Linked DNA regions of Homo sapiens: region 1 is linked to region 2. The links come from fine-mapping of genetic effects on gene expression. A gene starts in region 2. The other region holds a variant in brackets. All regions are shown on one strand. Distances are from middle to middle. Region 1 overlaps RRP12 (ribosomal RNA processing 12 homolog). Region 2 holds the start of RRP12 (ribosomal RNA processing 12 homolog).

Region 1 (4,384 bases), 30 kb before region 2:
CCTATCTTGAACCCAAGGCCAGACCCAAAGAAAATATGCAAGAGGGACCCAGAGGTCTGATGTGACTCAAGCCAGTCACACATGGGAAACTGAGGCAGTAGGTACAGTGCACAGCTTGGCTGGAAGCCTACGCCAGCCTGGGCAAGGCTTCTCTTGGGCAGGAGAGGGCCAGGGACCCTATACCAAGGGGCTCTTCAGATCCTTCTGCAGCCCAGCAGGGGACCCAAAGGAATGGCCTCTAACCAGCAAGGTCAAAATGCAAGATGGGAAAAAAAAAAAGGCAAGATGAGGGGGTCCTGTGGAGGGAGAGCCCAGCGTCTGAGTCCCATGATCTGGAAAATCTCTGGCCCAGTTTCTCCATCTGTAAAATGAGGAGTGGCCCTGCCCATGGGCCTTTGCCCTGAAGAGCCCCTGTTGCTTTCCATGTAGGGCTCTGGGGTGAAGAAAGCCACCTGGGCAGTGTGCCCCCTCCTCGCCTCCACCTGACAGGCATTCCCCTATGGTCCCTTTTAGGGCTCCTTAATGACCTCTGGCTACAAAAAAAATAGTTTGAAACTTGCTGGCCTCGAAGCTTGCCAGGTCCATGCCAACAGCTCAGAGGCCACCCTGCTACCTGCTAAGGGGAACGGGGACACTCACCACCAGCTGCACATGTTTGGCCAGGTGCGCCACGTCCATGACAGTCACTGCCACCTTGATGAAGCCCAGTGCAGACTTGACCACGTCACGGGTGCGGGAGGCCAGAAGCAGGCACACATTCTCCAGCAGCTGCTCCACTGTACTGGTCCCCATCAGACCTGTGGCAGTGAGGGGGTCACTGTCTAAGACACCCAGGACCCCACTCAGACCCAAACCTTCCCCACTGGAAAACAGCCACTCAAGTGTCAGTAAAAGCTGACATTGAGAGCCTTTCCGTATGCCCGGGATGGTTCCAATCACGCTCCATGGAGTGGTCTTGGGTCCTTTCGTCACCCTGAGGTGGGTGCTATTTCTTGCTTCCATTTTAGAGATAAGAAACTGAGGTGCTAAGAGGCTAATCAAGCTGTTCTAGGTCTCATGTGGTTGCCAAGAGGCAGGACTAGGACTAAAATCCAGGCATCAGCCCTAACCACCTCCTAACCACTCTGACAATGGGATGCAGGGCCACTGGACTGCACAGTCACACGTGGGGACAGACCTGAGGAAGGTGCCTTGGCATAGCCGCAAGGGCGGGAGGCAGCGACCCGCAGGAAGGGAGACAGGGAGGCAAACTGGGCTGGGTGTGGCTTTTCTTACTTCCTCCAGGCACCTTTTCCCAGTTCCAGGAGCCACTTTATCCTGACCTTTTGGGCATCTTCCTAATCTGAGGGCTTCTCAGGCCTTCTAGGAAATAAGCATTTACCTTTAAACTCGAAAAGGAGGTGGGTCAGGGCCAGGATGCTGCAGCTGACCATGGTCACCGCGCCCACCAGGCCAGGGTAGATCAGGACGAGGTAGCACTGCAGGGCCTCTGGGGACAGAGACCAACGTGGGTCAAGCAGGAAGGACCCACCAGGTAGGGGGGCTGAGGGCCAGAGAGGAGCAGCCTGCCCAGGGCCAGGGCACAGAGCTCTCCCCACCTTTTTTGAGGGGTGCTTCCCCCCACCCAGTCTATGAGCAGAGTGTCCACCCCCAGCCCCCTGGGCCTCACCTTCCTGGTTCGAGCCAAACCTTAGGAAAGCATGGCCCATCTCCACGAGCAGTGCAAAAGCGTTCTTCCGTGCGCCCACCGACACCTCCTTGGTGCACAGGATCACCTGGCCAAGACAACTCCATCAGCATCTGCTCCCTGAGCCATCTGCCCGGGAAGCGAATCGAGTCCTCCCACTCCCATCACTGCCCTCCCTGGATCCTGAGGCCCTTAAGAGCCACATTCCAGGGACCCCCCTCTAAAACACACCCGCACACTCACCTCTGGGATGAGGGCAGTGATGAACTCCTTGTGTTCAGCTGAGAGCTTCCTCACGATGTGTAGGAGGCACTTCAAACGGGGCTGTGGGCAAAGGGCTACCAGTCAGGACCCCTCAATGCTACCTCCACCCAACAAGCCTCAACAGTGGCTCCTTTCCTGGTGTTGCCCAGGCTCCCTCGGCAGAGCGGGTGGCCCTAGAGCCCTCACCCTCTTGGCGGGTGAGGAGGTGCTCCGCAGCGAGTCCAGCAGTGTCTTCTTCAGGTCCTCCAGGTGGCTCTGCACGAAGAGGGCCCCGGGGCCCTGAGGACTGGCACACACCTCCTCCAGCACTCGGTAGGCCTTCTTCTGCACCCCGTGGGCCTTGCTCTGGCAGACAGGAACCGGTGAGGGAGGCCTGGGGCTCACTCCCTGTCCAATGCTATCCACGGAGCATCCCCCAGCACTGGAGGGATTCTGAGCAGGGGTCCGTGGGGGCTCATGTGGCTTGACAGAGGACCAGTGGAATGTGGACAGCGAG[T/C]GGCTAACTCCTGGGCGAGGCACAGGGGTTGGGGGTGTGTGCCGTGGGGCCCACCAATCCACTCCACTCACCCAGCTCTGGACAGTGCTCACTCCAGTGGCCTGAGCTCATGGTGCCTGGCACGCGCCAAGGCCTGCACATCTGCTGCTCTTTCTAGCCGGAGCACTCTTCTCTCTCCTTCCAAGACTGACAACTCCTTGCTCCTCCAAACCAGCTCTCTGTCACACTCCCCCAACCCCCAACGCCGGACACCTTTCCTGAGGTGACGTGGCCTGGCCCTGGATTTCCATGTCCACCTGCAGTGCTGCCCCAGAGCACTTCTCACACTGTTAGGTAACTGCTACTAAACTGTGGCAATGGGGGCAGCTTTCAGGGGGTCACTGCTGGGCTGAGATCTGCAGGGTTGCTGGCCACAGCAGAGGGCATTTCAAGCTGAGGACCCAAACCCTGCAAAGGCACAGACAGGGCCTGTTATATCAGGGAGGCTTAAGGCAGCTGAAGGAGGCTGCAGCAGAAGTAGAGAGTGGACTGGGTGGGATAAAGCTCAGGCCGGTCTGGGATGGGCCTGGGGAGTGAGCCAGGCAAAGGAGCATGGCCTTGGTTCTACAAGAGTCACTCAGCACGCAAGGCCTAAGCACAGCTGTGCATTTCAGTCCCTTTGGGACCTGCAAGACAGATGGGCTACACAGGACACAAAGAGAAGCCACTGCAGGAGAAAGCAGACAGGGACCTGATCTCGGGAAGCAGCAAGGGACAAAGACATGAAGACAGGCCCCACCTTCCCACAGCCCATCTGCCCCCAAGCGTGGCTGTGTGGCGCTCCTGGCCCCCGAGGCTCACCTCTAGGTAGGGCCGGATGGTGGAGTATAGCTTACTGATGGCAGCTTCGTCAGCACACGGAGCCAAGGCCACGACCAGGTCCAGGACAGACAATCTGCTCGGGGCAGGAGGACAAGGAGAGGGATGGGGAGCTGGAGAAGGGCGCAGACTACCAGTGTTCTTACGTCTACTGGGTATGGGGAGGTGGGAGAAGTCAGGGTGAGGACAAGGGGCTTGAAGGAGCTCATGAACAATAATAATAGCTAGTACCTAACTGAGCATTCATGATGTACCAGTCACCGTTCCTGGTGTTTTACACCTGCTAACTCCTTCAATCCTCATAGCAACCTTGTTGCAAGAACTATTATCGTGCCCATTTTACAGATGAGGCCTTAGAGGCAGAATGGATAAGTAATTTGTCCAAGGTCACACAGCCCATGAGTGACGGGGCTGGGATCAGAACCTGGGCAGTGTATCTCCTGGGTCCTTGTTCCTCCCTACCAGACTAAATGGCCTCTCCAGGAAGAAGGAACTAGTCAGCACAGCCTCTCAGCACAGCCTGGAGAGTTAATACTTCAAGGCTTCCTTAAATAATGCAAGAGGGAACCCACAGTGCTTCTGCCAGATGCACCCTCCAGCTCCCTGGGCTGCTCCAGCTCAAGTGGGAGGCCCTGAGCATGTTACCTGGTAAAGTCAGAGCTGGCAGGGTCGAGCACCTTCTCACTGGCTTTTTCCAGGAGACTGTTCACCAACTTGTGGCCCCGAGGGAATGAGGAGAAGAGAGTCATTGGGGAGGAGCGAAAGAAAGCAGCAATGGCAGCAGTCCCAGAGCGGCCTCCCCATCAGCCCCCAGCCCTGCCCAAGCCATGACTGCTGGTATGTGCTCCAAAACACAGAGACCCACGTGAGCCCTGGTGGGTAGGGTCTCGGCCTCTCTGACCCTGCCCACCTGAGAGCTCCCCTCCTCCCTCCTTCCCTCCCTTCCGTGGCTCACCTGAGTGTCAGTGATGGTGAGGTAAGTTCTGATGGTTTCCAGCACAGCCCGGCGAGGGGCTGGAGTGTCCCCGGCTGCCACGGGCTGCCCATACAGGTTGAAGAGGATCGGCAGAAAGTTCTTG
Region 2 (4,384 bases):
TAGCCTGGACAACAAGAGCGAAACTCCGGCTCCAGAAAAAAATAAAAAGATGAATTTATTTTACCTGTTTCTTTCAGTTTTTAATATGGCTACTAAACATTTTTAAATTACATATGTGGCTTGAATTTAGATTACTATTGGACAGAGCTGGTCCAGGAAGACAGACAATGACCCATTAACAGGAGCTCTGTGAATGATTCAAGTTGGGGGATCTACCATCACATTATATTATTCTTATATCATTTTGATATCATTTAGAATTTTGACATTTTTTATTTCAATAACAAAAAATATATATAACTTTATAGTATAGATAAAATAATAAAAGTAAGGCCAGGCACGGTGGCTCATGCCTGTAATCCCAGCATTTTAGGAGGCCAAGGTGGGCGGATTACCTGAGTTCAGGAGTTTGAGACCAGCCTGGCTAACATGGTGAAACCCCGTCTCTACTAAAAATACACACACACAAAAAATTAGCTACTTGAATAATGCACTATTTAAATATACTAAAAAAAAAAAAAAAAAAATTAGCCGGGCGTGGTGGCACATGCCTGTAATGGCAGCTACTTGGGAGGCTGAGGCAGGAGGATTGCTTGGGCCTGGGAGATGGAGGTTGCAGTGAGTGAAGATTGCGCTACTGCACTCCAGCCTGGCCAACAGAACGAGACTCTGTCTCAAAATAAATACATGAATTAAGTTAAATTAAAGTAAATAAATTTAGTTCTTGCTAGATAAAACGTTTCCTAATCACTGTTACTCAGCATTTATTTACTCAACATATGTTTATTGAAAATACTCTGTGTAAAAGTGCTGTGTTAGGTATAGCTGAGGAGAGAAATGTTTGGAAAATATTTCTACCCTCAAGTACTTAAGCAGAGGAGATGTTCTTATAAAAAGCAGAAAGTAGAACCTGCCCTAGGAGGAGACATAAAGGGGAGGAGCGATGACGCATCATCCAGAAATACCAGCTGTTGTCATCGGAGACCTGTCGGCCAGAGCTGAAGAAAAGGCATGAGTTGGCCTCTCCTCACTATCCTATGGCCCTCCCGACCCTCGCCCCTACCTCCTTGTGGGCAGCCGAGTTGGACTCCCAGAAGCGCTGTACTTTGCTGAAGGTGACGTTTGTGCAGTCGGAAAGGCCACTCAGGAAGGTACCCGAGGACTTCTCGGTGAGAACCAGCTCCGCCTCTTCTTCCATGGGCGTCTCCGGGGCTTCGCTTTTGCCCAAGCGCAAGGACCCTGACTGCAGCTCATTATGTAACTTCACAGCATCGACTGTCAGGTCACTCCTTCCTGAGAGCCAGAGGCACAAGATAAGGTCCAAGCCTCCTTTTGGTCAAGAGAACAGAACAACCCCTGGGAAACAAACCAGCCCAGGCCAAATCTCCAACCCGAGAGGCTGAATTCTGAACACAGCCAGTCTCATAAAACCACTGTATGCCTAAAAACTTGAAAAACCAAGGAGAAAGGGAATCCTCCATGTAAAAGTTTCTGCTTCCCTGTAGCAGCGGCATAAACGCCACTGGGAATCGGCTGGGAGCTACATTCAGAGGGCCTGCAAAATAAATGAAGGTGAACGCGCTCTGTAAAGAGCTACCCAAGGTCCAAGCCATCTGTCTCAACTCTGACACCCGCGGTACCTTACACAAGACATTTCCCTACTGCGGACCTCAGTTTCTGTATCTGCTAAATTGGAAGGACTGCCCTTCAGAGAGGGCTCCAGATCCGACATCCTAAGAGACGAAAGGTCCAATGCCTGGCCCCGCACTCTCCCAGAGGCCCCAGACTCATCTGGACCCAGGTCTGCCTGGAACCCCGCCCCCGGCTGCGCTCGGGTCTCAACCCAGCTACCTGACGGCCGGCTGAAGAAGCGGCTGCGGGCGGCCTGACGGTGGCGGCAGATGGCGGGGTTGCTGTCGCTGCTGTGGCCTTTCTTCCAGCGCTTCAACTTAGCTGAGACACCAGAAGGCAACTTTCCCGAGCGACCCATGTTGACTAAGCCGTGGCGAGGAATGAGCTTAAATGACCGGCTTCCAGGGACGTAGAAACACGCTCAGAACCCACGTGGATACCCTGTAGCCTTCACTTCCTCTTCTTCTGGCGTCACTTCCGGATTCGTGTGCATTACTATGGTAAAACAGTCAACATCCGGTTTTACACCTCCTCCTGGCTTCGGATGGGGAGGAGCTCCAAGGAGATCCGTTGCTAGGGAGGAAGTTAGGTTGCTAAGGGTTCTATGGGGTTCTTACTCCAGCCAGGACCAGGTTTCAGGGCCACAGGCGTAAGCCTTATAAAACTGGAGTTTGGCTGAGCGTGGTGGCTCATGCCTGTAATCCCAATACTTTGGGAGGCTGAGGCGGGTGGATCATTTGAGGTCAGGAGTTTGAGACCAGCCTGATCACCAGGGTGAAACCCCGTCTCTACTAAAATAAAAAAATTAGCTGGGCTTGGTGGCGCGCGCCTGTAATCCCAACTACTCGGGAGGATGAGGCACAAGAATCACTTGAACTCGGGAGGCGGAGTTTGCAGTAAGCCGAGATCACGCCTCGGCACTCCAGCCTGGACAACAGAGTAAGACTGTCTCAAAAAAACAAAACAAAGCAAACAAAAAACTGGAGTTCTTTTGCAGTTAAACAACAACAAAAAGTACATTTATATTACATTTGAAAATCTATTTTCAAAATTAAGCATAGAAACACATTTATATGAAAGTCATATACCTTCATATAAAAGTATATATGTAATCCCAGCACTCTGGGAGGCCGAGGCGGGCAGATCACCTGAGGTCACGATGTTCGAGACCAGCCTGACCAACATGGAGAAACCCTGTCTCTACTAAAAATACAAAATAAGCCGGGCGTGGTCGCGCATGCCTGTAATCCCAACTACTGGGGAGGCTGAGGCAGAAGAATCGCTTGAACCTGGGAGGCAGAGGTTGCGGTGAGCTGAGATCACGCCATTGCACTCCAGCCTGGGCAACAAGAGTGAAACTCCATCTCAAAAAAAGAAAAAAAGAAAAAAAAGAAAAGTCAAAACTTATGGAGACTTGAAAGTGTGAAAATTAGCTTGACTTGAAAAGAGAAAAAAGCAGTCAGTGGTGTTCTAGACAAGCTTTGCTATTTTCATTTATTACTGGAGATACTCAGTTGCTAAGCCACCTTGCCTTATGACAGCATTCCATCCCTAATTAATCCCTGGTTCTCCAATTTCTCTCTCTCTCTCTCTTTTTTTTTTTTTTTTTTGAGACAGAGTCTTGCTCTGGTGCCCAGGCTGGAGTGCAGTGGCACGATCTCGGCTCACTGCAACCTCCACATTTCAGGTTCAAGCAGTTCTCCTGCCTCAGCCTCCCAAGTAGCTGAAATTACAAGCATGCACCACCGCGCCCGGCTAATTTTTTTTTTTGTATTTTCAGTACACGCAGAGTTTCACCATGTTGGCCAGGTTGGTCTCGAACTCCTTTCCTCAGGTGATCTGCCCACCTCCCAAAGTGCTGGGATTACAGGCATGAGCCACCGCACCTGGCATCCGGCCAATTCCCAGTTCTCCTAATTCCACCTCAGAACCAGCAACCGATCCAGTTTATCCCCACTCCCCTGAGACCCTCCTTAAAATCCTTCAACCAGATCCCAAACCTTACAAAAGACACATTTCTCTTCCCTCTTGCCCAGCAGCTTTATTCTAAACCTTTAGCAGCATTCTTTGGAAGAAGATATATAGAACTAACAAAGTACATCTATAATATATAAAGAATTCCTACCAATCAATAAGAACAAGGCAGACAATCCAATAAAAAGAATGGGCAAAAGGGACAGGTGGGTGCAGTGGCTGATGCTTGGCCTGGAATTCCAACACCGTAGGAGGCCGGGGGGCAGGGAGTAGAGGGGAGGAAGGATTGCTCCAGCCCAGGAGTTCAAGACCAGCTTGAGCAACATCATGAGACCCAGTCTCTACAAAACATACAAAAATTAGCTGAGCATGGTGGTGTGAACCTGTAGTCCAGCTACTCAGGAGGCTGAGGTGGGAGCCCAGAGAAAGTCAAGGCTGCAGTGAGCCGTGATTGCACCACTGCACCCCAGCTTGGGTGACAGTGTGAGACCCTGTCTCAAAAAAGAAAAAAAATTAAAAAAAAAAAAAAAAAGAATGGGCGGCTGGGTGTGGTGGCTCACGCCTGTAATCCCAGCATTTTGGGAGGCCAAGGTGGGCAGATCACGAGGTCAGGAGTTCAAGACCTGGCCAACATAGTGAAAAACCCCATCTCTACTAAAATACAAAAAAAATTAAGCTGGGCGTGGTGGTGGGCACCTGTAGTCCCAGCTACTTGTGAGGCTGAGGCAGGAGAATTACTTGAACCCTGGAGGTGGAGGTTACAGTGAGCTGAGATCGT

The links. PIP is the estimated chance that this variant, and not a neighbour inherited with it, causes the effect.
Region 1: its variant is the best candidate, but not a certain one, in a credible set for the expression of RRP12 in whole blood (TOPMed, PIP 0.81).

What each region holds. Positions count from the first base shown.
Region 1 is chr10:97,368,786-97,373,169 of GRCh38, forward strand. RRP12 (ribosomal RNA processing 12 homolog) reads right to left here. Exons shown (of 34, transcript NM_015179.4): 18 at 4,261-4,384; 19 at 3,951-4,018; 20 at 3,288-3,381; 21 at 2,138-2,296; 22 at 1,931-2,011; 23 at 1,670-1,775; 24 at 1,382-1,489; 25 at 640-797. Among named protein-coding and RNA genes, the nearest start is that of RRP12, 30 kb to the right of the region's middle. The variant T/C (reference allele first, on the strand shown) is at 2,448.
Region 2 is chr10:97,399,242-97,403,625 of GRCh38, forward strand. It overlaps RRP12 (ribosomal RNA processing 12 homolog), which reads right to left and starts at 2,099. Exons shown (of 34, transcript NM_015179.4): 1 at 1,852-2,099; 2 at 1,064-1,293. The coding sequence starts at 1,990. RefSeq lists an enhancer at 1,583-1,632.